Linked DNA regions of Homo sapiens. The protein of the gene in region 5 interacts with the protein of the main gene of each other region in a pairwise test. Each region holds a gene or a part of one and is shown on either strand. Other genes may lie near its edges.

Region 1 (3,500 bases), on a different chromosome or scaffold from region 5:
CAGAAATCCTACAGCTGGGAAGCTTATTGTTTTCTGAAATTTCCAAATTGTTTAGGTCCTAGGCTGACTGAGTACTCCCTATGACTGTGTCAGAACCAGGCCTTTGAAGATATTCACATACCTCTGGCCCGGGTACCCCTCAGAGTATTTGTTATTTAAGCAAGAGCCTAGGGCCTCCAAAACTGCTCGGCTGGCGAAATTCTCCGAGGCAATCAGCTCCAATCCAACCCTCTGCCGGTTACTCTCCTTCTTAATGATGTTGTAAACCTTATGAGAAGAAAACAGATGCTTGATATTTGGAAATTTTAGTTTAAAATTTTGCTCTGATCCAAATTACAACCTCCTAAAGAGAAAAGACACTCTTTCACATTATGGAATAGAATGAATCCTCCTCAAAGGTTTTAGTATCTGAGAAAGCACTAATCAATGAATTAACAAAAACAAAATGATAGCCAGGTGCGGTGGCTCACGACTGTAATCCCAGCACTTTGGGAGGCCGAGGCTGGTGGATCACCTGAGGTCAGGAGTTCTAGACCAGCCTGGCCAATATGGTGAAACTCCATCTCTACTAAAAATACAAAACTTGGCTGGGCGTGGTGGCTCACGCCTGTAATCCCAGCACTTTGGGAGGCCGAGATGGGCAGATCACCTGAGGTCGGGGGTTCGAGACCAGCCTGACTAACATGGAGAAACCCTCGTCTCTACTAAAAAATACAAAATTAGCCGGGCATGGTGGCACATGCCTGTAATCCCAGCTACTCGGGAGGCTGAGGCAGGAGAATCACTTGAACCCGGGAGGCGGAGGTTGCAGTGAGCCGAGATCACGCCATTGCACTCCAGCCTGGGCGACAAGAACAAAACTCTGTCTCAAAAACAAACAAACAAAAAAACAAAACTTAGATGGGTGTGGTGGCAGGCGCCTATAATCTCAGCTACTCGGGGGGCCGAGGCAGGAGAATCGCTTGAACCTGGGAGGTGGAGGATTCAGTGAGCCGAGATCGCGCCATCGCACTCCAGCCTGGGAAACAAGAGCGAGACTTCATCTCAGAAAAAGAAAAACAAAATGATTGAAGAGAAAGTTATCTTTAAGTGTCCCACCTAATTTTTAACACCACCATCCTGTTATTTTTATTCCTACATTTCACCAAGTTTCTCCCTCCCTGAACCTTATTCCTTGTTCTTCTTCCTTAAAAGAAAAGATGCTTTAGGCCGGGCGTGGTGGCTCACGCCTGTAATCCCAGCACTTTGGGAGGCCGAGACAGGTGGATCACGAGGTCAGGAGATCAAGATCATCCTGGCTAACACAGTGAAATCCCGTCTCTACTAAAAAAAAAAAAATAATACAAAAAATTAGCCAGGGCGTGGTGGCTGGCACCTGTAGTCCCAGCTACTCGGGAGGCTAAGGCAGGAGAATGGCGTGAACCCGGGAGATGGAGCTTGCAGTGAGCTGAGATCGCGTCACTGCACTCCAGCCTGAGCAACAGAGCAAGACTATATCTCAAAAAAAAAAAAAAAAAAAAAAAAAAAAAAAAAAAAAGGCCGGGTGCGGTGGCTCACGCCTGTAATCCCAGCACTTTGGGAGGCTGAGGTGGGCGGATCACGAGGTCAGGAGATCGAGACCATCCTGGCTAACATGGTGAAACCCCACCTCTACTAAAAAATACAAAAAATTAGCCGGGTGTGGTGGCAGGCACCTGTAGTCCCAGCTACTCAGGAGGCTGAGGCAGGAGAATGGCATGAACCCAGGAGGTGGAACTTGCAGTGAGCTGAGATCACGCCACTGCACTCCAGCCTGGGCGACAGAGCAAGACTCTGTCTCAAAAAAAAAAAAAAAAAAAAATTAGCCGGGCATGGTGGTGGGTGCCTGCAATCCCAGCTAGTCAGGAGGCTGAGGCTGGAGAATCCCTTGAACCCAGGAGGTGGAGGTTGCAGTGAGCCAAGATCACGCCATTGCACTCCAGCCTGGGCAACAAGAGTGAAACTCTGTCTCAAAAAAATAAATAAACAAGTAAAATAAAATAAAATAAAGGTGCTTTCAGATGTCTAGATAGATCTATATTCCCTGTGAACTGTCAGGAAAGGGTCAACTGTCAGTGATCTCTCCCCTTCTCGCTTTTCTCCAGAGCACCCTGCACAGTGCTCCACACTTTGAAGAAACCCAGCAATCTTTAAATTTACCCTCAAAGGATTTGTAGCCATTTTGTCTGCCACCACCTCTAAATCCAGCAGGATAATACTCATTTCAAGGCTGTCCCTAATTAATTTGTAATTAGAACTAAAGATTAAATGAAGGCCTCCAACATAAAAAAATCTGTGAAGACCCCAAAAATCTCACCTCAACATCACTGTCTTTGAGGGGTTGTGCCAGCATCTTGTCATGTGAGGACCACAGGTCAGCATCCTTGTGGGCCCCGTTGACTGGCATCGTCATTGCACTGGTTCGAAGCTGCCTAAAAAAATGGGAAAAACATGTGTAGCTTCCAGAATTAAATTTATTTATTTTATTTATTTTTTATTTATTTTTGAGATGTAGTCTTTGTTGCCCAGGCTAGAGTGCAGTGGCATGATCTCGGCTCACTGCAACCTCCGTCTCCCAGGTTCAAGAGATTCTCCTGCCTCAATCTTCTGACTACAGGCGCATGCCACCATGCCCGGCTAATTTTTTGTATTTTTAGTAGAGACGAGGTTTCACTGTGTTAGCCAGGATGGTCTCAATCTCCTGACCTTGTCATCCGCCCACGTTGGCTTCCCAAAGTGCTGGGATTACAGGTGTCAGCCACCGCGCCCCACCTATTTATTTTTATTTTTTTGAGACAAGACTCTCACTCTGTCACCCAGGCAATGGCGTGATCTTGGCTCACTGCAACCTCCGCCTCCTGGGTTCAAGTGATTCTCCTGCCTCAGCCTCCTGAGTAGCTGGGACTACAGGCGTGCGCCACTACGCCTGGCTAATTTGTGTATTTTTCGTAGAGATGGAGTTTTATCACGTTGGTCAGGCTGGTCTTGAACTCCTCTCAAGTGATCCGCCTGCCTCGGCCTCCCAAAGTGCTGGGATTACAGGCGTGAGCCACCATGCCTGGCCGCAGCATTATATTGAATCAAAGCTCATCGAAACCTGTTAGTTCTATCAAGTTGATAAACTAACACTTTTTTTAGCCTTTCCCTCAGAATTGCTTGGTAAACACGAGCATGTTCTATTGCAAAACCACCATGTGGAACTTCTGGTTCCTTTCCAAACTGCAGACGTCAGCTCATCTCCCTCAGAAATGAGAACTGACCCTCCTCCCCACCTGCAGGGAGCCCAACTCCGCCTCCTCTCAGCCAAACTTCTCATGGATATAGCTTATCTCCCACAACTAAACTAAGTTCCTTGAAGGTAAGGACTGAGTGCTACTTTTTAAAAAATCTCCTGCGGTACCCAACACTGCTATACATGAAGAATATTTTCCGGCCGGGCACGGTGGCTCACGCCTGCAATCCCAGCACTTTGGGAGGCCGAG
Region 2 (3,500 bases), on a different chromosome or scaffold from region 5:
TCACAGAACCTAGAGAAAACGTGTTTCTTGTCCTCCAGGCATTTTACAGTGTATTATAATTTATATTAATGAAATATTTACTTTCTTTTTCTAAAAAAAAATTATTTCATTTTTTGAGATGAGGTCTTGCTATGTATGTTGCCTGGGCTGGTCTTGAACTCCTGGGCTCAAGTGATCGTCCTGCTTTGGCCTCCCTAAGTGCGTGCTAGGATTACAGGTGTGAGCCACCACAACTAGCCTTTATTGGCTTTCTTTCATGTCATGAGAAAATGATGATCTGGACACCTGAAAAGACCAACTGCACATGCAGGAGTACAAATAACATGAATATAAAATCATCACCTTTTCACATGTGGAAAGACTGTACCCAGAACTGCCCACTTCAACTTTCAGAGCTTCTGCTCAACCATTTGGCTTCTTGGCACAGAACATATGCATGAAATTCTTTCACCTCCATGTAAGTGATTTATCTGGAACTATGCCCTGATAAATCACCCTTGTCACTCTTCCCCTTTACTTCCCCTGTCCCCTCATATAAAGCTCCAGGTTCCTGTTTTTGAAACTCTGTAATAGTTGAACATAGGGCACAAAATCCTGCTAATTTTCTCTCCCAATTTAACAACAATGTGACTTTAACCCCTTGGCAATTGATGTTGGTCAGGATTTCCTGGCAGTAAATACTCAAGGACAGAGAGAGGAATCAGCACCCCACCATCATGCCAAACCATTTCATTTTTTTTTTTTTTTTTTTTTGAGATGGAGTTTTGCTCCTGTTGCCCAGGCTGGAGTGCAATGGCGCAATCTAGGCTCACTGCAACCTCCACCTCCTGGGTTCAAGTGATTCTCCTCAGCCTCCAGAGTAGCTGGGATTACAGGCACCCACCACCACGCCCGGCAATTTTTTTTAAATTTTTTTATTTTTTAGTATAGACGGGGTTTCACCATGTTGGCCAGGCTGGTCTTGAACTCCTGGCCTCAGGTGATCCACCCACCTCTGCCTCACAAAGTGATGGGATTACAGGCATGAGCCACCATGCCCGGCCCCATTCCAGCTTTTTCAATCCTTTCTGCATTCTGAAGAAGAGGTGAACTAGCAGAGAATTCTGGGTGTTGACATGCAAATGAACACCAGTTGTTTTATTTTTTCCCTAGTCATATCTGATTATACTGTTTTCACTGCATTTCCGAAGGCTGCATAGATTCTTTCAGCCTCCAGGTAGATCTGTCAAACTGCAAGAGTGATCCCTGGGTGGGCCTGGTCTGCCTTTCTTTGCAACCAATTCACCAATTCTTAGATAGCAGAGAGTTCACTTTCATATTTCACAGGGGACCTCCTTACCCTCAAACCTAGTGAGAAGATCGTGGCCAGCCTGCTTTATGGAGAGAGAACCTCTTAAAACCCTGGTCAAATTTGGTCTGCATTTTATCTTGAATCATTAATTTAACATGACATTTGGTACAATGTGGTACAATGTTCCATACAAAATGTACTGCACTTCCATGGCTGTTTTTTTGTATTTTTTACAAAGCAAAGTGGAGTCCTTACACTTTCCATCAGCTTGGACAGTATCATCCAAAGATTGCCATTATAGGAGCCGTATCATTCTCAAATTTTGTCTTAATGATTTTACACTTCTAGTTGGGGGCTAACAGTGTATTTATCTTCAGACCGTACATCAAAGGGCTGGGTAAGCGTCCCTCCTTAACAGGAAAGAAAGCTTAATTACAAATGGGACATGATGGGGTGAATTCAGGTTTTGTGGGGCATAAAATATACACAGTAGTGGAGTCTCTCTAAGGAAAATATTACAAATTATGAGAATAAAATTGCTTCGGCCCTTCCCCAAGCACTGGAAGGACTTCTGCACAAGGGAAGGGCCCCATGAAGCTTCATTAGCTTCATGGTGAATCTGTCACTGGTCATTGTGTGCTTGTGCTTTTCATATACTGGACAGACCAGAACGGAATGAAGAAAGCTGCACTTGAACCCAGTGTTTTTCCAGGAAAGCAAAATGATTTCTGTAAGGAGAAATCAATTTTTTGAGGGATACATCAAATATAATTAATTTTGATATATTTCAATTTTCAATATTTTGACATTTTGATTTTCAATTTTGACATATTTTGATTTTCAAAAATATATTTTGATTTTCAGGATGGGATTAAAAGTACTGTTTTATATAGATGAGTAAATTCAATTATAGATCTATGGCATGCTTCCTATGTAGAATACAAAGACAATGGGGGAAATGGGATTAATGATGAAAATAGAGTAATTAATTTTTTTTTTACCTTTTTGAATGGAGAAATAGAACAGTAGTGTTCCTGAGAAATCCAATAACATCAGCATTTTAACATGAGTTATGAAAGGTATTATACATGAATGCCCTAAGTTTACACTCCTTTTGAATAACAAAATAGCAAGCTACGGGAGATAAACATGAAAATCACTCAAAAAGCACAGGGTATTCTGGGTGACTTTTCTAATTTGGCAGATTGAATGAGTGTAGTCAACCCCTCTACCCTCTCTCAAACAATCACTTGAGGTAACCCTGTCAGAGTGAAAACTGGCTTGGAAAAATGTGTGCCTCATCGAGTGTGGCTTTCCTGATGTTCTTAGTTTTACCAGGGAAAGACACTGAATTCTTAGGGCTCATGTTCTTCATTTTGTTTCCTTCTTGCTTTTTACACATCTGACTTTCATCACCTTTGACACACCTGGTTCTCCTCGGTTAGCTACAATCCAAAACTCATTGGTTTGGTTTCCTCAGCCTCTCGTTGGTTTCTGCCCCTGTTGTTCCCGTTTCCCTCTTGTTGAGAACTATGAGATTTATAGGACATAAGGGGTCTTCAGAAGTAATCTGTCCCATCATTCTCTGACTAATGGATAAACGGAAGCCAGAGACATTCCAAAGTCAAAGTGCCATTTATAGCAAACCAGGAACTAGAACCTAAGCCCCGATTCTGGGTTGAGAACTTTTCCCTTTCCATTGCTTTCTATAGGACTTCCCCACTTCTTTTTTTCCTTTTAAAATGATTGTTCTAGGATGAACTGGAGATTTTAAACTAACGCTCTTAACATGCTGGGGTCTTGGGGCAGGGCCTTTTGAACCACTGTTTCCTAGAGGTGCTGGTGGAGTGCTGTGTGTGATAGAAGTGAAGTTTGAAAGCTGTCAAAGATATTCTGCTTTCCTGCAGGGTTTAGAGATTTACGACAAACAAATGAAAACTTAATATGAAGAATTATTCACATGCTAATGAACTAGCACATAACCACAGCTCTTAAAAAAATCAATTGCCAGCCAAAGAGTTACTCAGCAGGCAAACAAGGGTATTGGCCAACTGAGTCCAGCCATTGGAAAAAAAAAATCCAAGTGCTTTTCTTTTTAACTCTATAAAATATTATTTTTAACTTATTCTCTGAAAGAACACACTGGTTTAGATCTTTTACATCTTTAGCTATTCCTGACAGTCCTGGCAATAGAAGAATTTATTTTATT
Region 3 (3,500 bases), on a different chromosome or scaffold from region 5:
CCTGGGCAACAAAGTGAGACCCCCATCTCTATAAAAATAATAAAAATAAATAATAATAATTAGCCGGGTGTGGTGGCATGCACCACCTGTGGTCTCAGCTACTTGGGAGGCTGAGGCAGGAGGACTGCTTGAGCCCAGGAGTTTGAGACTACAGTGAGCTATGATTGCTCTATTGCACTTCAGCCTGTGTGACAGAGACAGACCCCATCTTTAATTAAAAAAAAAAAAATTAAAAACTGCAAAAAGAGTGAAGGGCACATATTTCTTAAAGAATGCTTCAGAAGAACAAAATGTGCCCCAAAACATGAAATAGCTCCTGATAATATCAGTTTTTAGTTGACCACTATGAAGGACATCTTCTAAACAATAACAAAACAAACCTGGCAGTCCAATAACTACAGGAAAGATCAAGACTTCCCCATTTTGGAACATCTTTGCTTCAGGTTTTTACTTTTTGTAGTAATACAGGAACAATATGCCATAGGGACAAGAGTTGAACAGGTGTCATCCCTTACCCTATTTTACCTATTGGTAATTAAGCCTAACAGTTTATTGTCTGTACATCTTTTCTTTTGTATGTTCCCATACAAAACAATCTTTGGAATTTAGCTTCACTTTATGACACTATGGTGATTATTGTTCCTAACAGAGAGTCTAACCTAAGAATATAGCCCAATACGTGAAAAAGCTAACTGAACAGTAAACAATGACATTAATCTCATTGTAAAAAAACATGAGATTCTTAGCAAATGGCAGCAAAAGAACTGTGGATACATTAACAAGGCATTAAAAAAAAAATTTAAAGTTTCTGGCCGGGTGTGGTGGCTCACACCTGTAATCCCAGCACTTTGGGAGGCCAAGGCGGGTGGAACACGAGGTCAGGAGATCGAGACCATCCTGGCCAACGTGGTGAAACCCCGTCTCTACTAAAATACAAAAAAAAATTAGCTGGGTGCGGTGGCACACGCCTGTAGTCCCAGCTACTCGGGAGGCTGAGGAAGGGGAATCGCTTGAACCCGGGAGGCGGAGGCTGCAGAAAGCCGAGATGGCGCCACTGCACTCCAGCCTGGCGACAGAGCAAGACTCCGTCTCAAAAAAAAAAAAAAAAAAATCTAAGTTTCCATGCTTTGACCTAAAAAAAAGTCACATAGGTTTCTTTTTCTTTAATTCCCATTTCTTTTTTTAAAAACTGGTTAATGTGTAGATTTTTATTCAAATTCATTTGGACTGCACATGAATATTAAAAAGTTATAACATGAAGACTGTTCATTAGACTATCATAGGCAAAGCAAGTGATTCACAGAATAAGTGCAATTTATCGACCCTGATCATTACCTTTACTACCGACCACTATTTAACATCACTTTTTTAATGTACTGTTTACTTGTTTACTGTCTTTGTTTATTGTCCTGTCTTCTCCCACTAGAATATAAGTTACGTAAGGGCAAAAACTTTCTCTTATTTTCCACTGTATGGCCAGGGTCTAGCACTTGGTAGAGGATCAGCATAAATTTGCTGAATGAGATGGGTGAATACCTTCCGCCTTTCGCCTCCCCCACTTCCCTCTCTCCATACACATGTTAACCAATCTTTAAGGCCAGGGTCAAATTCTATTATCTCTATGAAGATTACCTCCCTGAGCCCTCTTTCTCTTTTGTACCTGAATTTGGCACTTGCCAGCTGTCTGGTAATTATCTTTGCATATGTATGTATCTCCCTTAAAATTCTTATAATCCTGTTCTCCATAACATGGGCCAGTGTCCCCAACTTTTGGAATCCATCTCAGCACATGTAAACAGCATACTGCTAACAAATGTTTTGCTTGATTCCTATCAGTAGTTAATCCAGAAATTCAGTTAATAATTTCAGTTTATAATGTATCCCTCCCTTTCAAATAACTCAAAATAGGCCATGATATTACAGCGAATCCCTCTTTTTATTTCTGACAATTTTAAATTTTACATTCTCATATAAGTAATGCTCATAATTTACCCTATCAATCACTATCCCTCAAGATTATATGTTTTTTTTTTTTTGATACACTGTCTTGCTCTGTTGCCCAAGCTGGAGCGCAGCAGTGCCATCATAGCTCACTGCAGCCTTGACCTCCCAGGCTCAAGAGATCCTCCCACTTCAGCCTCCAAAGTAGCCGGCACCACAGCTGCGTACTACTACCATACCTAGCTAATTTTTTGATTTTCTGTGGAAACAAGGTCTTTGTTGCCAGGGCTGTTCTCAACACCTGAGCTCAAGTGATCCTCCTGCCTTAGCCTCTTAAAGTGCTGGGATTATAGGAATGAGCCACCACGCCTGGCCTACATTTTTTAATGTAATAAAAAAATCTTGTGACTTTGTGGCAATACCTATAATGATGTTTCTAACCCCAGTCAAGAAGGGCGTGAAGTTTCATTCCTCTCTCTTGTTGCTGAGGTATCAGAGGGCATTTTTCCACTTATTCCTCTTTCCTTTCATGGCAAGATGTATTCTGTTCCCTTCCTTACTGATCATACTCCTGGCAAGCTTTTATTATTTCTTTGTACCTGTCCAAGGTAATCTGTCTTACATCCTTCTTTTGAGCCACTGTTTCCTCCAGTTATTTATTTGATTAAAATTCTAACTCCCTGTCTCAATCCATTTGTGTAGAAGAACCAGCTCTTCTTAAAGCCTGAGCCTGCTTCTTTAAATTCGGCCAACCTTTATGAACCTCTCTTCACACAGCCAACCCTTGATCATCAAGGATAATGAAATGCATACAAATAACAGATTGTCTACAACACAAGAAAATCAGAAAAAAAAAATTGACATCTGGCTTTGGAATTTATCATATGTAGCTTTGGGCAAGACTTATTTTCCTAATTATGTTTTTGTTTAAGCCAACATTCGGATTTTCTTTTATGATGGTGAATATCTCCGTTTTAAATGATCAGTAAATTTCTTTTAAAGCCAATCAAGCACCAACTATGGTTTTTCCTGTGAAATCTTTTTAACTAGTTTCTTTCATCTGTTGAAATCTGTCATAAAATCTGTTTTATTTCCTCTAAGTTATCTCCTTATTTTCTTGGGATTCTGATCCAAATCAGTTCACCCTATATTAATTTACTTCTTCAAATTAAAGTACCTTTTGCTTGAGAACTTAATGCATTTTAAAAACACTGAATGTCCAGTGAAATTTTTAGTTCAGGTAACACGAAGTAGAAAATTATTTTTGTCTAGGAAAACTTGGGAGTTCTAGGATAAATTATTACACTGGTAATTCTAGCAAATTATATTTAGTAGGATTTTTAGGATTAGCTGAAAATTGAAAAAATTTAATACTGGACAGCTATATAAGTCTGCTTCATCAATATATTAATCCCATATGCTAAACACTGTATGAAATTAAATTCCCAGTCCAGGGATTTACAGAAAATAGCATCAAAACACACTAACACATAAATCCTGCCTCTTATTCTGATCCCTACCTAAACTCTGCAACCTTCTCACACCTACTCTTCCCCCCT
Region 4 (3,500 bases), on a different chromosome or scaffold from region 5:
CTTAGATAGAAAAAGACACCTAGGTTTCTCATTGGCTCTCTTTTTTCATAGGTGCTTTTATACTTTTCTGTTTCCTGGCTTGAATCCTGTCTTCCTACTTTTACCTTCTCTCCCTGAGTAAATTCCCATCACTTTAATTTATATGACGAATATCTCCAGTCTCCCTTCTCTCTCCTATGTCCAGGATTCATACTTCCAACTTCTTTCTAGATATCATCATATAGTGCCACCAAGGCATCTCAAACTCAACATCAGATGTCTAATCTCTTCCCATCCCCACCCAAGACCTGTTATTCATTCTTCAATTAATGATGCCAACATTCATCCAATGAGGTAATAAACTTCATTCATGCTTAATTTTTCCCATATATTGTCAATGAACAAGTTCAGCTAATTCTACCTCATCAGGCTCTCTGTCTATTCCCACAGTCACTATCTTAGCTCCAAACTTTATCATAGGTCTTTCAGACGAATCACTGTGTTGTATGTGTATTCACCTCTCCCGTAACTCTAATACTACCCCTAGAAAATTCTTAGACTTTTACATGAACATTCAAGTCTCTTTTTTCTGAATTTTATTTAAGAGGATTTTGATTCAACAGCTTATTTTACATAACATGTTTACTTTTGACATGCTTTGAAATTATTGAGTGATTTTTTTAACGTAAGATACTTTTACTTAAACATGCCACTTCAGGAAGCACTTGGGGAGTTTATCATTCAACCCAATATTTATATTGACTATGTCCCTGATAATATGCTAACCACTGTAGGGGACAAAAAGTTTAATAAAACTGAATTTAACATGGGCTTTACCTGTAAAAACTTTACAATCTCTTAGGGGAGATAAGACATGTATCTAAATAGCTATAGTACTGCCTATGATAATTATAAAATAGGTACAGAAAAAAAGCTATCAGAATAATGTTGGGAGAGAGATTGCTTTCACTGAGAGAACAAAACAGCTTCATGAAGGTGTCAATATCTGAGCAAGGACTTCACAGTTGAAAAGATATGCAATCTTTTGAATATTTCATTTTTTTCACTCACCTTATTGAACCCCCTTTATATGTAAGGCACTGCATTAAGTGCTAGGGATACAGAAATTAACAAGGGACCAGAACTTGATTTAATGTAGTTTTCAGCCAGTGAGGAAAAAAGATAAAAGTAAATTATTACAACAGAATGAAAAGGAATTATAATGGAGAATTTTTTCCCCCACTAAAAGCTATAAAATAATAAAGAAAATCACAAACATGAACAAGAACTAACTCCTTTCCAAAGGGAACATCTTTAAGAGGAGATGCTACTTGAACTGAGCTTAAATTATCAAGTAGCCTAGGTCAAAATGGAGAAGAGCTAGGGAAAGAAGGAAGCATTTGACCAGAGGAATCAAGGGCTCAGAGATGGGAAGGTATGAAGTATGTACTTTGGTGATTGTTCAGGAGAGCTGAAGAAGAGAGGTAAAAGATGTAGATAGAAAAAGACACCTAGGCTAGGTCATGGAAAGGTTAAAGGCCAGACTAAGAAGTGAAGACATTTCTTAGGAATAGCTTATCAATGACTAACCAATAGAGGTAATTTACAGACAATTCTATATATGGATTCATTTTCACCAGGTAGACTAGAAATTTACTTACTTGACTGTATTTCTGATTAAAAATTTGATATTGTTGGCATCAAGCAGCCCAATCGTGTAATTTTTTTTTAGACTTTGTACATTACAGTTCACTATATTAAACTTCCAGACTGCTTTCTTTGGTGCTCTGGTCATTTCTCCTTAGTTTACACTTGTGGCAATGGTCATCTTATTTTTATTTCATGATGACCTACAGTTCACTCAAGTGGATTATTATAGGAAATGGAAACAAGAGCAATGGTAATTGTTCAAATAATTGGTAATTGGTCAAACACTTTAGGATCTAGTATTCCACCACTACTGGTAATCATAATCTTCAGCCACAATTAATATATGAGGTTGAGCTCTGCTTTTTTATTTAGAGCTCTAATAACATGAACTATAACCTGCTCCTAAATAACCTTTTTTGGAAAAAATATTTTAAAGGACATATTCAGTCTCTAGATTCACTTCTGTATATTTGAACACACAAAAATAAAAATAAATGGCCAATTCAGGGGAAAAAACTATCAGTTGGAGAAAGAGTAAATCAAAGACCCAACAATTGCTTTGTTAATTTTTTATTAATACATTTTCTTCTCAGAGAAGTCACCTAAAGCTGTCCTCCCCTAACAATGGAAATTTCCACATTTCTACATCTCCAACTATTTCATTATCTTTTCTGAGGCAAGAAAGAAATATTTAAACCTATCACAGCATATTGGGAATACATTTAATTATATGATTATAATATTTTGTTCCAATACCTAGCTAAGAACGAACTTCAAGAAGAAATAAATGTTTTAGCCCAGTAAAAATGTGAGTACCGCAGTGTGTGTCTTTTACTACCAGAAGACAATACAAGATACTAGATGCTTGAAGATAATAAAAATGCAGCATCAGAAACTCAGTGAAGCCTACAGAAATAAAGATGGTGTGGCACCAAAACTCCAATGCTCATTCTACCATTTTGCATTGGTCCTGTCCTAGTAATGCAAAAAGACCAACACGCCAGTAAAAATGTCCTTTAAACTACTTTGGGTTGATTGCAAATGCCTGGTCTATTAGATCCTAAATGGGACATCTGGGTAACAATTCGTGGTCATTGTCAAGAAGTTAGAGCTCTGCATCCACTACCTACCTACTCTCAAAGCCAGCGTCTGCATTCCTAACATTCTAACTACACTTCGTCAGTCACCTTACATTTTCATTATAGCAAATAGCCAGTCAATGGCAAATTATTCTATTTTTCAACTTCAAAATGCCTCCTTGTCCGCATCCTTTCTTTCCTGCCATCACAGATGTGGGTCTTCTCCTATTGTACCAGACTCTCTCTACCTTAAAAGAACCATTCAATCTTGCCACTAAGTTTTGGGGTGGTATATTTTCCCCCTCTCACTGAGGTCAACCCCAGCCTTGTGGCTTCCAGGACCACAAAAGATGTTTTCCTTAGGATACACAGGGGAAAATTATTTTTCTTACTCTTATTTCCTAGTTTATCCTTTTACTAGTCTTTTACTAATTTAAAATCAATGGGTCTACCTCTAATGTCCAATTACCGTCTTTTCACTAGATCTTTCTTACGTCTGAAATATGCTTCTTGATGGACCCAGCTCACCAAGCACACTCTTCTTGACTAAAGAAACTCCTCATATCAACCTTCTCCAAGAATTATTTAAAGGAAAGAGGTAGTATTCTCCCAAATTTACTCCAGCTAAATGTTTTACATTTTCTCTTCAGCCAATTCACAGCATAATTGCTTAATCCTTTTTATCTTATATATTTATTATCTGTGTTTACACTATGATGATTTATTACCCTGAGATAATGGTTTTTTAAATATATTTTTCTTTGAAAGTTTTGTCTGCCTTAAACAGGATGG
Region 5 (3,500 bases):
GCCTCAGTGAAGGCTGTGGGGCTGTCATCAGGGCAAGCAGGAAGCCATTTCGACATTGACAACAGGTACAATTACACTGCCATGCTGCTAAGTGACCTGTTTCTAGGCTTCCTAGATTCTGTAAGATTTAAATGATAAACATATAATGTTTAAAAATGCAGTCACAATCTCTACCTGGCCCCAAAAAGAGGCCCCCAGCCCCTCCATTCCACCTTAGAGTACTGTGCAGACACCCCCGGTTCCCAGAAAGGCCTGAGAGGAAGAAACCGGGCTGCCTCCCTGCATGAAGGAAAGCCAGGGAGAAGCAGCCCACATTCAACCAGGGACGCTCCGCTGTGAGGACCAAGTCAGGGAGCTAAGACCAAATGAACGAATTCGCTTCTTGTTTCCTTTTTTAAAATCAAAGAGTATGACAAGAACAGGCATTTTAGAACATAAATTACTAACAGATAAAATAATGCTCAATCTCACAAAAATCTTCTTTAAAAACCCAAAATGAATGCCCATTTTTAGTCTATCACTTGGCAGCGATGGAAAGCAAGCAGACTCGGTGCTGGCGGGAGAAGCAGAAACAGGCGCTTCCTCAGGCCACAGAGGGTGTGCAGTGGGCACTTTCTCTCCAGGAGGCTGATTTCTGAGGTGTGAAATGCACACACTTCCCCAGCCAGCAGGCCCTGAAGCCCAGCCCACCCAGAACTAACAGCACGGCCGCAGGAGCAAGGAAGACAAGGACAGCCTGGTTCTACCAAGGACAGACGCAGCAGTGGAACCATCTCCACGGGCTGCCTGCCAGCTCTGTGAACCCCAGTGCGCCAGAAACACGCTCATCTGAAGACACTGCCATCTGTCAAAAAACTGTCATCACATACTAATTTAACAGGAAAAGCACACTTTACTGCCGTCTGCTGGAAGACTGTGGTGATAAAGTCCCAAGCTTGTGTGGGTGCTCTGTGTGGCCAATGGGGAGGTGGCTAAGGAGGTGCTCTCCCCGCACCCTGGGACCCTCTCTAGTCACCCCCGAAATACAACCTGAGGCAGCTTCCCAACACCTCACTTCAATTTCAAGACAGCAGAGGAAAGACAGTTCTGCCCCTTCAAGTCTTGAAAATCACTCAGAACAAAGAAGACAAATGCCAAGTACAGATCCAAGTGACGCCTGGATCGGGGCTTGGCTCCCAAAATGCCTGGAACCCAACGCTACCCTGTGGGCAGCAGTGAGGGTACCCACAGCACCCGCAGCATGAGTGGGGCAGGTGCTGACCTCCCCCACTGCCCGCTCAACTCTGGGATCCAGACCCACTGCTTGAGAGGTATCCCAGGAAGGAGCACATCATGACAGGTGTCCACTGTCTGGCCTTGCCGGTCCTTCCCCACAGGTACCTGTGGCCACCCACCGGGTAAGAACAGCCAGGCACTCTTGAGGATGAATGGACACAGCTCTAAGTAGACACTGAAACCCGAAGACCCCAAACACTCTCAGGGCTCCTCCACTTGCAGGGTTCGTGGGGTCAGGGGTCAGGGGTCAGGGCATAAGTGAAGTCTGGGCCAGGTCTCTTGCGGCCATGTTATGGGAGGGTGGGAACGTTAGCAAAGGCTTAGAGCAAGGCTGTGAGAGAACATTGCTGTCCAGCCTGCAGCAGTGTGGGCGCTGTCTGGGCCTCTCTTCTAATCAGTGTGGAGGATGCATTTGCCCCATCAACATGCCAGACCTGAGGCCTTATTAATCTGCTCCAGCAACAACTGCACCTTGACATGCACAGCAGCTGCGGCCAGGACTGCCAGTGCCGTAAGCCTGTGGCCGTCTGGGGTCATTCTCCAGAATCCATGCAGCTTCTTCAAGGGCTGGACTAACGAGTTAGACTGGGATGCAAGATACCACTGTCTCTGCTCCCCTGAGGCTTCCATGGTGGCCCTAGTCTCCTCCACCCACCCCGGGCCCTGCAGGGTGTGATCTTGTTTTTGATTTACTATCTTGGGGGCAGTTTCAGGTTTCCATTTGGCCTTCCCACTGTGACGACTCTTACTCACAGGCCAAGGAACTCGTGTGGGCGTTACTCCACCTGCCAAGCGCCTCCGCTCCGGCTACACACTGAGGACTGGGGAGACGGCCACTGGGTGGCCTGGGACCCTGTGGCCCACTGAGAGCCACCAGACACAGACGGCTCAGGAATGAAGGCCTGGGACACAGGCCAGGCAAGCCACAGAGGCCTGCCAATGTGAGAGCTGAGGGTATGAATAACAGGAAAGGGTAGGGAAAGAGCCAGCAGAGAGACCACAGTGACAGGGACTACAGGGTGTCCCACTAACCTCTGTCTTCCAGATTTCCCCTGAGGAAGAGAGAACCATGGGCGCCACAGGAAAGCCATTCCCAACTTATGTGGAGAAGTAGAGCTGAGGGGGCCAGGGTGGACTGTGGGGTCCACGGAAATGCACTCCTTGGTCTCCCGCCACAGGAGTGAGAGTGACAGATGGCCCAGTGTGGTGTCTGCACCTACCCTCTGTCCCTGCCAGGGCACACCTCCCACAGAGCCGTCAGCCAGGGGCCGACCGGGCAGGGATGCTGAGGCAGGCCCGTTCCTGTGTGACACCGGAGGCCCTCAGAGCTGCACCGCAGTCTGGACCAGGCCTCTGAGGGGCCAGGACTGCACTACGTTCAGCTAGCATTTGCTGCCTCCTCTGGCTGCTCCCCCTTCCTTCTCGCACAGGCCTCCTCCCGGCCAGTCCCTCGCCTGTCTAACCCACCGTGGCATGCGGAAGCCGCCCACGAAAAGCCCCACGCTACAGGGACAGGAAGCTGCAGGGCCGCCCAAATGCCCTAGCTGAGCGAAGGAAATGCCAACCTCTATAAATGGCCACGACACCCAGGAAAGGCTCAGCAAGTGAAATGCAGGTGCTATGGAGGCAGAAGAGGCAAGGGTAGCACTTGGAGAAGTTTTCATTTTATTGAAAGTCCAAGTACGTAGTAGATGTCCCAGATCCCCATCTCCATCCCAGAAGTGAGGCTCCACTCCTTCCTCACTCCTGCTGGCCCTTCACGCAGAGAAACTGATGCCCAGCTTCCAGGTGCAGGGCCACAGGCGCCGCATGCACAGTCCTGTGGGTACCAACAGGGAAGGCACGGTGAGGCCTGCCTGCAACAGGGCTGCCTGGTGAGTTTGCGCTCTGCCACATGAGAAGCACAGCCCTGTACCCCAGCAGCCAGGCTTACATCCCTCCACCAAGGGACTGAAGGGGCCTTTTCCAGAGAAATTAAATGGTGCCCAGAGAAAAAACCTACAGAAGGTGACACCTGTGGCTGCCTGTGGTCCAAGAGACACCCATTCTTTAACAATTTACCCATTCACTCAGTACTTCCAGTCAGCCTTTAATGCTTCAATCTCTTTTTTTTTTTTTTTTTTTTGAGACGAAGTCTCGATCTTGTTGCTCAGGCTGGAGTGCAATGGCACTATCTCAGCTCACTGCAACCTCCGCTTCCTGGGTTCAAGAAATTCTCCTGCCTC
Region 6 (3,500 bases), on a different chromosome or scaffold from region 5:
CTCCGCAGCACAGGACGTGGCCAGCACCTGGGACTCGAACTGCAGCAGCTGCCCCATGAAGCTGAAGTTGGGCGAGATGATGCTGCGGCGCTGCTTAACGAACTCGAAGGCCTCCTCCAGCCTCACCCGTTTCTTCATCATCAGGTAGGCCAGGCAGATGGTGGCCGACCGCGAGATGCCCGCCTGGCAGTGCACCAGCACGCGCCCACGGCAGTCCTTCACGGCATCTGGGGACAGGGTTCAATAGGTTAGTGCACGTTTCTGCAGACCCCAGCCCCGACCAGGGGCACCGGCCAGCCCCTGGGGTCGGGGGGCTCTGAAGGAAGGACTAGCCGTGCTAGACCAAGGACTGGAGAGGAAGAAAACCCATGTAGGCAGGTCTCTAGAATGCCCCCAATTCTGAGGTCTATTTTCCCGAATCACTATGCTGAAGCTGGTTAAATCCTATTATCTGTTCAAGGATTTCCCTTTGCAGAAACAAAACAGTGGGGTCCAGGGTGGTGGCTCACTCCTGTAATCCCAGCGCTTTGGGAGGCCAAGGAGGGTGGATAACTTGAGCTCAGGAGTTCAAGACTAGCCTGGGCAATATGATGAAACTGTCTCTACAAAAATACAAAAATTAGCTGGGCGTGGTGGTGCACTTGTAGTCCCAGCTACTCCAGAGGCTGAGGCAGGAGAATCACTTGCACCCCAGAAGCGGAGGTTGCAGTGAGCTGAGATGGCGCCACTGCACTCCAGCCTGGGCAACAGAGCAAGGCTCTGTCTCAAAATAAATAAATAAATAGAAATAAAATAAAAACTATGACTCAATGCTCCTTGTGTCTTCCTCCCCGTCCAAAAACTCTTACCATCTAGGCACTGAAGCCATGCAAGGGGAAGGGGACTGGCTCTGCAAGCTAAGCCTGTGTGTAGGTCCATCTTCCCTCCTCCCTCCCAACCCAACATCCAATGTATAAGCCTTCCCAATGAGGAAGAGGGGGAATGGGGACCCTTGGATTCAGTGCCTCCAATGTCCACCTTCAACCCAGGCTTACAGGGGTTCCTTATCCTTCCCACCCGCCCTCAAACCCAGGAACCCCAGAGCAGGGCCAGCCTACCGATGTACTCTATGGCTTCCATGAACCAGGAGCTGATGTCGGCCTTGTGGTTATCTTCCACTGGGATGCACTTGTACTGATAGTGTCCTTCAAAGTGGTTTGGGCAGTCCGAGGAGACATTCAACAGAGCCGTGATGCCCAGGGCGTCCAGCATGTCTCTCCGGGCAGCATGGTAGGCACTGCCGAGGTAGAGGAAGGGAAGGATCTCCACAGGACCCCCCTGCACAGAAAGGGAAACAAAGGCCCCTGAATGACATGAGGGTAAAGTGCTTGGCACAGGGAGTGGAAGCTTGTCTGAGAAGAGCTTTCCTTTCCAAACCCAGGGAGAATGCCTGCTGGGCCTGGCCCTCCCAGCCTCCCCCTGTAGCCTCCTGGAACTCTTGGAGGGGTGATAGGCCCAGTGGGACTTCTCCAGCCTTTGCCCTCTACTTGTGAGCAGAGAGGCCAGGGCAGGTAAAGTCTTGTGGGACTCTCCTGCACCTCCCCCATGGCAAAATAAGCGGCAGGACAATGCCGGCCTTATGGCACCATCTGTGACACTGAGTTTATATCTGCTAATCATCAAGCCATTTGCTGTGTGGTTTAGATACTTATTTGTTTTGATATGTATTCACTGGGCATATCAAAAACAGGTGTGCAGTGGCTCACACCTGTAATCTCAGCACTTTAGGAGGCTGAGGTGGCAGGATCATGTGAGCCAGGAGTTCCAAGACCAGCATGGGCAACACAGTGAGACCTCATCTCTCAAACAATGAAGCTGGCATGATGGTGCACACCTGTAGTCTCAGTTGCTTGGGAGGCTGAAATGGGAGGATCATTTGAGCCCAGGACTTTGAAGCTGCAGTGAGCTATGATTGCGCCACAGGACTCAAGCCTGGGTAACAGAGTGAGACTCTGTCTCTAAAAATAAACAAATAAATAAGCTGATGCCCTCATGGCCACACAGACAAGAGAGAGGATCTTGGCAAAATGAGGCAACAGTGGCTTAAATTTAGCACATGAGATGTGGGCAGCAGAGTCCATCTAACTGAAAGGGCTGGAGGGTGGGCTTATAAGAAACACAGTGGCTCAAGCAGGTTTTCTTGGAGGGAGGGTGGGTGACCATCTATGTTCATTCGGCTGATACGTGGGAGCAGCCTGCCTGTCGGGGACTGAGATGTATTTCATGGCCTGCTACTTCAGAGGAGAATGACCTCAGCTTCCCAGAGAGCAGGTCCCCCAGGGCTTCTGGAGGCCTCCTCACTTGTCCGGACACGACGTTAGAGGCCAAGCCAGGGAGTCATGTCTTTAGACTTTTTTCTTAGGAGGATATTTAGAGAGGGAAGGGGAAGATTTCCAAGAAGTAAATAGGTCCTACCTAACATCCCACCCCAATACTCCGGGTTCACCGCATTCTCCCCAAATTGAGGCATAACATTCAAAGACTTAAAAAAATCTCAGGATTGGATGCAGTGGCTCACGCCTGTGATCCCAACACTTTGGGAGGCCAAAGCAGGAGGATCACTTGAGGCCAGGAGTTCAAGACCAGCCTGGGCAACATAGCAAGACCCCCCCCCCCCATCTCTACCAAAAACCTTTTAAAATTAGCCAGGCATGGTAGTGCCACCTGTAGTCCCAGCTACCAGGGAGGATCCCTTGAGCCCAGGAGTTCGAGGCTGCAGTAAGCTATGATCACACCACTGCACTCCTGGGTGACAGAGCAAGACTGTCTCAAAAGCAAAGACAAAAAACACCGTCAGAACTCTGAAAAGAAGGCATCCACTGGCCCCTACGCTGTTCCTGCCCCCCACTTCCAAGCCCTGCCCCCCGAGTCTACCTGGTCGTGTAGTGGGGTCCCACAGGAGCTGCAGCCCAGGTCCAAGGGCTCTGTGGCACTGGGGGGAACCGGGGGTGGGATGGCTGCCAGGGCCTTGGTTTTAGAACAGAATTCTGGGTACTCGGAGGAAAACCTCTCATAGCCGCCTGTAAAGGAGAAAGAAGCTCAGGTTAATGGGGTCACTAAGCCAGCAGGAAGTCAGAAAGAACTCGACTCCTACAGACTCAGGCGGACTGCTAGGAAGGCAGGGGCTGGCGTGCTCCATATTGGCCACTAGGTGGCGCTGTGGACCTAGAGAATGGCCATGGAGTGGTTTCCAGAGATGCAGAGGACACACTCGTCAGGACTGCAGCAAAGCTGGAAGGATAAGCTTTATGGACAAGACTTGGGTTAGAGAGGTAGACATACAAAGGAAGACGTGCAGGGGGATGTGCAGAAGTGACTGTGGAGTAGCTCCTCAGGACAATGACAAAATAGAGAAGCAAAGGTCACGCTGGGCTTCCAAGGACACTAAGTACCTGTAGAGACACCTGCCACCCCTGATTCCAGCCCTTCCTCAGGGGAGGTTCTCCAATGTGAGAAAGAAG
Region 7 (3,500 bases), on a different chromosome or scaffold from region 5:
CTGCCCCCGCTCTTCTGGGTTCCTTGGAGGTGTGTTTCTTATGGTAAAACGCTCTCCTGAAGCTCGACCTTTTTTCTTGAGATTTCCTTCTGCAGTGTGGGGCCGGGTTTTCTACACCCACCTCTTCCTGCTGGACTTGAGGTTGCTGTGGGGGAGATGAGAGAAACTGAGTCAGGGCCCCTGACCTTGAGGAGATCTCAGGTGAGGTGGGGAAAGAGAGCCACGGTGGGCTAGCAGGCGTTGCCCAGAGAAGAGTGGTTGATGCTCAGTGCTGGGGAAATATGTGTGGTCTGGAGGGGGCTGGGGAAGCTTCAAGAAGGAGGGACTGGGTCCGGGTGCAGTGGCTTACACCTATAATCCAAGTACTTTGGGAGGCTGAGGCAGGTGGATCACCAGGGGTCAGGAGTTCGAGACCAGCCTGGCCAATATGGTAAAACCCTGTCTCTACTGAAAATACAAAAATTAGCCGGGTGTGGTGGCGCATGCCTGTAGTCCCAGCTACTCAGGAGGCTGAGGCAGGAGAATCGCTGGAGCCCAGGAGGTGGAGGTTGTAGTGGGCCATGATCGAGCCACTGTGCTTTAGCCTGGGCGACAGAGCAAGACTCCGTCTCCAAAAAAAAAAAAAAAGGAGGGACTGGAGCAGGACACAGAAGAGCAGCAGAGACAGGGAAGTTGTTACACCAGGCAGGGTTGGGGAGCCCACAGTGAGGTCAGGGTTACATGGGGAGCGTCTTCCTCACCTCCTCTCCTTGCTGTTCTTCTGCATCTTGGAGCATGGAAATGATCTTCTGAATGAATTCTTCTGAAAAAGATCAACACGCATGGTTAACTTTGGTGCTACGAAATCTCTTCTGCGGTCAGTCTTCATTTCCTAATGCCCCGGTGGCTCCCTGGGTGATTCTCCAAGGGGGCTAAAGAGCTGCCAGAGGTGGCCTGAGGGCAGAGCTGGTTTCATGGGATACATATTCACTTTACCAATGACGGCCTCTAAATAGACACCCAGGAGGAGGCCCCTCAGGGCCATCTGGAAAGGCCCATTCCCTACAGGTGCCCTCATCCTGCACCTTCTCCCTGTCCAGGCAGAATTTCCCTTCAAGGCATATTTTCTATGAAAAGCAAACAAGGCAGAATGGCAGGGGATAGGGGGCAGAGATCTTTCCAGGTCTTTTCAGACCTGACGGTGATATTATATATATATATATATATATATATATATATATATATATATATATATATATATATATATATATATATATATATGTTTCTAGGCCTGGCTCTGCCAATGGTAAAATAATAATTACAGCGATGGCAGCTGCCATTAGCTGAGCTTCCCTCCCAAGGCCCCTACCCCTGTCCCTATCCTTTTTACTTCTGAGCTCTGCTCTCAAGCTGGGCCACCCAACAATGACAATAATAGCAACAAATGGCACCTAACACATATTAGCCACTAACAGGGGCTGCCCTAAATGCTGCCGACAATTCTAGAAAGCAGGTACTTGCTGCCCCCATTTCACAGATGAAGAAACTGAGACCAGAGATGAAGTAACTTGCCCAAGTCCACACAGCTCAAAGGGGTCACAGCCCAGACTCAAACCAAGGTCCATAAGATCACCCCATTGGCCGAGCCCTTGGTGTGGGCCAGCACTTTCCTCCCTTTGCCTCCTGTCTGCCTCATCAGGGTAAGCACCAACACTATCGCCATTTATCGAGGTTCAGACAGGCAGCCTGGCTTGGGCCTGGGCTCTGGGCCCCAAGCTGCCTCCCCAGCCTGCTGTACTCAGAGGGAGGTCTGGACAGGTCACTGCCTCTCTCTGGCTCAGTGTCTCTTTGCAAGTGGGGGAGTCAGAACAGAAGTTTTGCAAGGGGTGTCTGAGAAAAAGAGAGGAGTACTGACTGTATTCCGAGGCTCTGTCCAGCGGAAGCTCCTCTCCAGGTTCCTGGCTCTCTGATGGGGTGGGAAGCACGGAGGGACCTGGAGCCCCAGCCTCTGTAGATGGGGCCTCCTGGACTTTAGGTTCTTCCAAGCCTGAGAAGCAGAAGGAGAACGAGGGTGTGTTTTGTCTGTCTGGGGCTGTTAACTATGCACAGAAGCTAGCACAAACTAAAAGTGGGCTCCGTGGCTGGATCACATTAAGGACTTATGGGGCTGGAAGACAGCTGCTGGGCAGGGCTGTGCCTCTGATTTACTGGCCCAGACCGAGTTCCCTTATCCCTTTGTGCTTCCATAGAACTGGCTTTCCTGGGCTTTGCTGCCCTCTCCTCCCTCCACCATTTTGACTTGATCCACAAGTTGAAGAGTAGAGGCCTGGTCCCATGGCATGAATTAATGAATCATAGCCAGAATCCCCCTGCATGAAAATATCTCCCCATGGGCCTGAAATTCCCCTCTTTGGTGTTAAGCGTCACTCCCTCCTTTCTAAGATGTAAATTCTCCTGGCCAGGATGACCTAACAGGATGACCTGTTCTCCCTGATGCCCAGGAAGAAATGACTTGTCTGATCCTTTCCGCCTCTAGCTCTGGCCCCATCATCCATGGGCCATGTGGCCTTGAACACATTGTTTTACCTCCCAAAGCCTCAGGTCCTTCATCTGTAAGGTGGGGATAATAGTTGTACTCCATGTGATGGCTGTGGGGATAATAGTTGCACTTCATCTGATGGCTGTGAGGACTGATCGTGTTATAGATATGCAGCAGGGAAATGTCTCACTTTACAGGTGAAGAAATTGAGGCACAAAGATGGGGAATGACATAGACAATATGCTAGAACCCAGGTCTCCTGCCTCCCCTGCTCCAGCTCCTTCTTGCACACACTACTCCCCTCCCTGCCAGGGTGCAGAAGTTGAGGCGGCCAAGAAATGTTGACGGTTGGGAAATCCCGGAACATAATTTCCATCAAGGGCTTATTGGGGTTGCCTAGAGCTCGCTGAGGTGTTGTGTGTGGAGGTGACCTGCTGGCATTCTTTCTGTCTTCCCACAGTCATCCTCACACCACTCAGGGCAGAGTGCAAAAGTCAGACCAGGCACAACGCAACCTTTAAAATGGTCAATTCCATCCCCAGGGAAGGTTCCAGAGCTGGAGGCAGCTGCAGGGTTGCTATGGCAACTGCAGAGCCTGCTCACCATAGCTGCTGGAGATGGAAGGCCGATGGCCGCTGACACACAGGGGCAGAAAGCTGGACTTCTTGGGTGGCCAGGCCTCTGGACTGGAAACATCTGCAGCCCCCCTCTTGGCCTCCTCGGAGCCGTGTTTCTTGGGGTTTGTCTTTGAGGTTCTCTTGAGGCTTGTCTTTTTCTCTTGGGATTTCTTCCTAACAGCTGGTGCTGGGTTTGGCAGGGCCACCCCCAGCTGTGAGGCCAGAGATTGCTGTTGGGGAGAGGAGAAAAACTGGTCAGGTTCATGACACTGAGAGGGGGAAAGCTCTCTGGAGGCAAGTGAAGAGCAGCCAAGCTGCAAGATGGCCCCGAGAGAGGGGAGGCAGCAGAGCCCAGAGCAGGGGGA

What was found.
Region 1: the proteins of MAPK9 (region 5) and SHMT1 interact in binary tests that used the Homo sapiens proteins (3 or more experiments, as listed by UniProt).
Region 2: the proteins of MAPK9 (region 5) and PPARG interact in binary tests that used the Homo sapiens proteins (3 or more experiments, as listed by UniProt).
Region 3: the proteins of MAPK9 (region 5) and DUSP16 interact in binary tests that used the Homo sapiens proteins (3 or more experiments, as listed by UniProt).
Region 4: the proteins of MAPK9 (region 5) and MLIP interact in binary tests that used the Homo sapiens proteins (3 or more experiments, as listed by UniProt).
Region 6: the proteins of MAPK9 (region 5) and DUSP4 interact in binary tests that used the Homo sapiens proteins (3 or more experiments, as listed by UniProt).
Region 7: the proteins of MAPK9 (region 5) and BNIP5 interact in binary tests that used the Homo sapiens proteins (3 or more experiments, as listed by UniProt).

The regions. Positions count from the first base shown.
Region 1 is NC_000017.11:18,353,551-18,357,050, forward strand, and holds part of SHMT1 (serine hydroxymethyltransferase, cytosolic), read right to left. Parts: intron 2,451-3,500; 5' UTR 2,432-2,450; coding exon 2,336-2,431; intron 268-2,335; coding exon 122-267; intron 1-121. UniProt on the Homo sapiens protein: Interconversion of serine and glycine.
Region 2 is NC_000003.12:12,411,070-12,414,569, reverse strand, and holds part of PPARG (peroxisome proliferator-activated receptor gamma), read right to left. Parts: intron 1-3,500. UniProt on the Homo sapiens protein: Nuclear receptor that binds peroxisome proliferators such as hypolipidemic drugs and fatty acids.
Region 3 is NC_000012.12:12,556,364-12,559,863, forward strand, and holds part of DUSP16 (dual specificity protein phosphatase 16), read right to left. Parts: intron 1-3,500. UniProt on the Homo sapiens protein: Dual specificity protein phosphatase involved in the inactivation of MAP kinases. Dephosphorylates MAPK10 bound to ARRB2.
Region 4 is NC_000006.12:54,124,943-54,128,442, reverse strand, and holds part of MLIP (muscular LMNA-interacting protein), read right to left. Parts: intron 1-3,500. UniProt on the Homo sapiens protein: Required for myoblast differentiation into myotubes, possibly acting as a transcriptional regulator of the myogenic program. Required for cardiac adaptation to stress through integrated regulation of the AKT/mTOR pathways and FOXO1.
Region 5 is NC_000005.10:180,250,584-180,254,083, forward strand, and holds part of MAPK9 (mitogen-activated protein kinase 9), read right to left. Parts: intron 1-3,500. UniProt on the Homo sapiens protein: Serine/threonine-protein kinase involved in various processes such as cell proliferation, differentiation, migration, transformation and programmed cell death.
Region 6 is NC_000008.11:29,337,185-29,340,684, forward strand, and holds part of DUSP4 (dual specificity protein phosphatase 4), read right to left. Parts: intron 3,060-3,500; coding exon 2,914-3,059; intron 1,318-2,913; coding exon 1,098-1,317; intron 228-1,097; coding exon 1-227. UniProt on the Homo sapiens protein: Regulates mitogenic signal transduction by dephosphorylating both Thr and Tyr residues on MAP kinases ERK1 and ERK2.
Region 7 is NC_000006.12:36,323,389-36,326,888, forward strand, and holds part of BNIP5 (protein BNIP5), read right to left. Parts: intron 3,366-3,500; coding exon 3,122-3,365; intron 2,027-3,121; coding exon 1,895-2,026; intron 803-1,894; coding exon 741-802; intron 146-740; coding exon 1-145.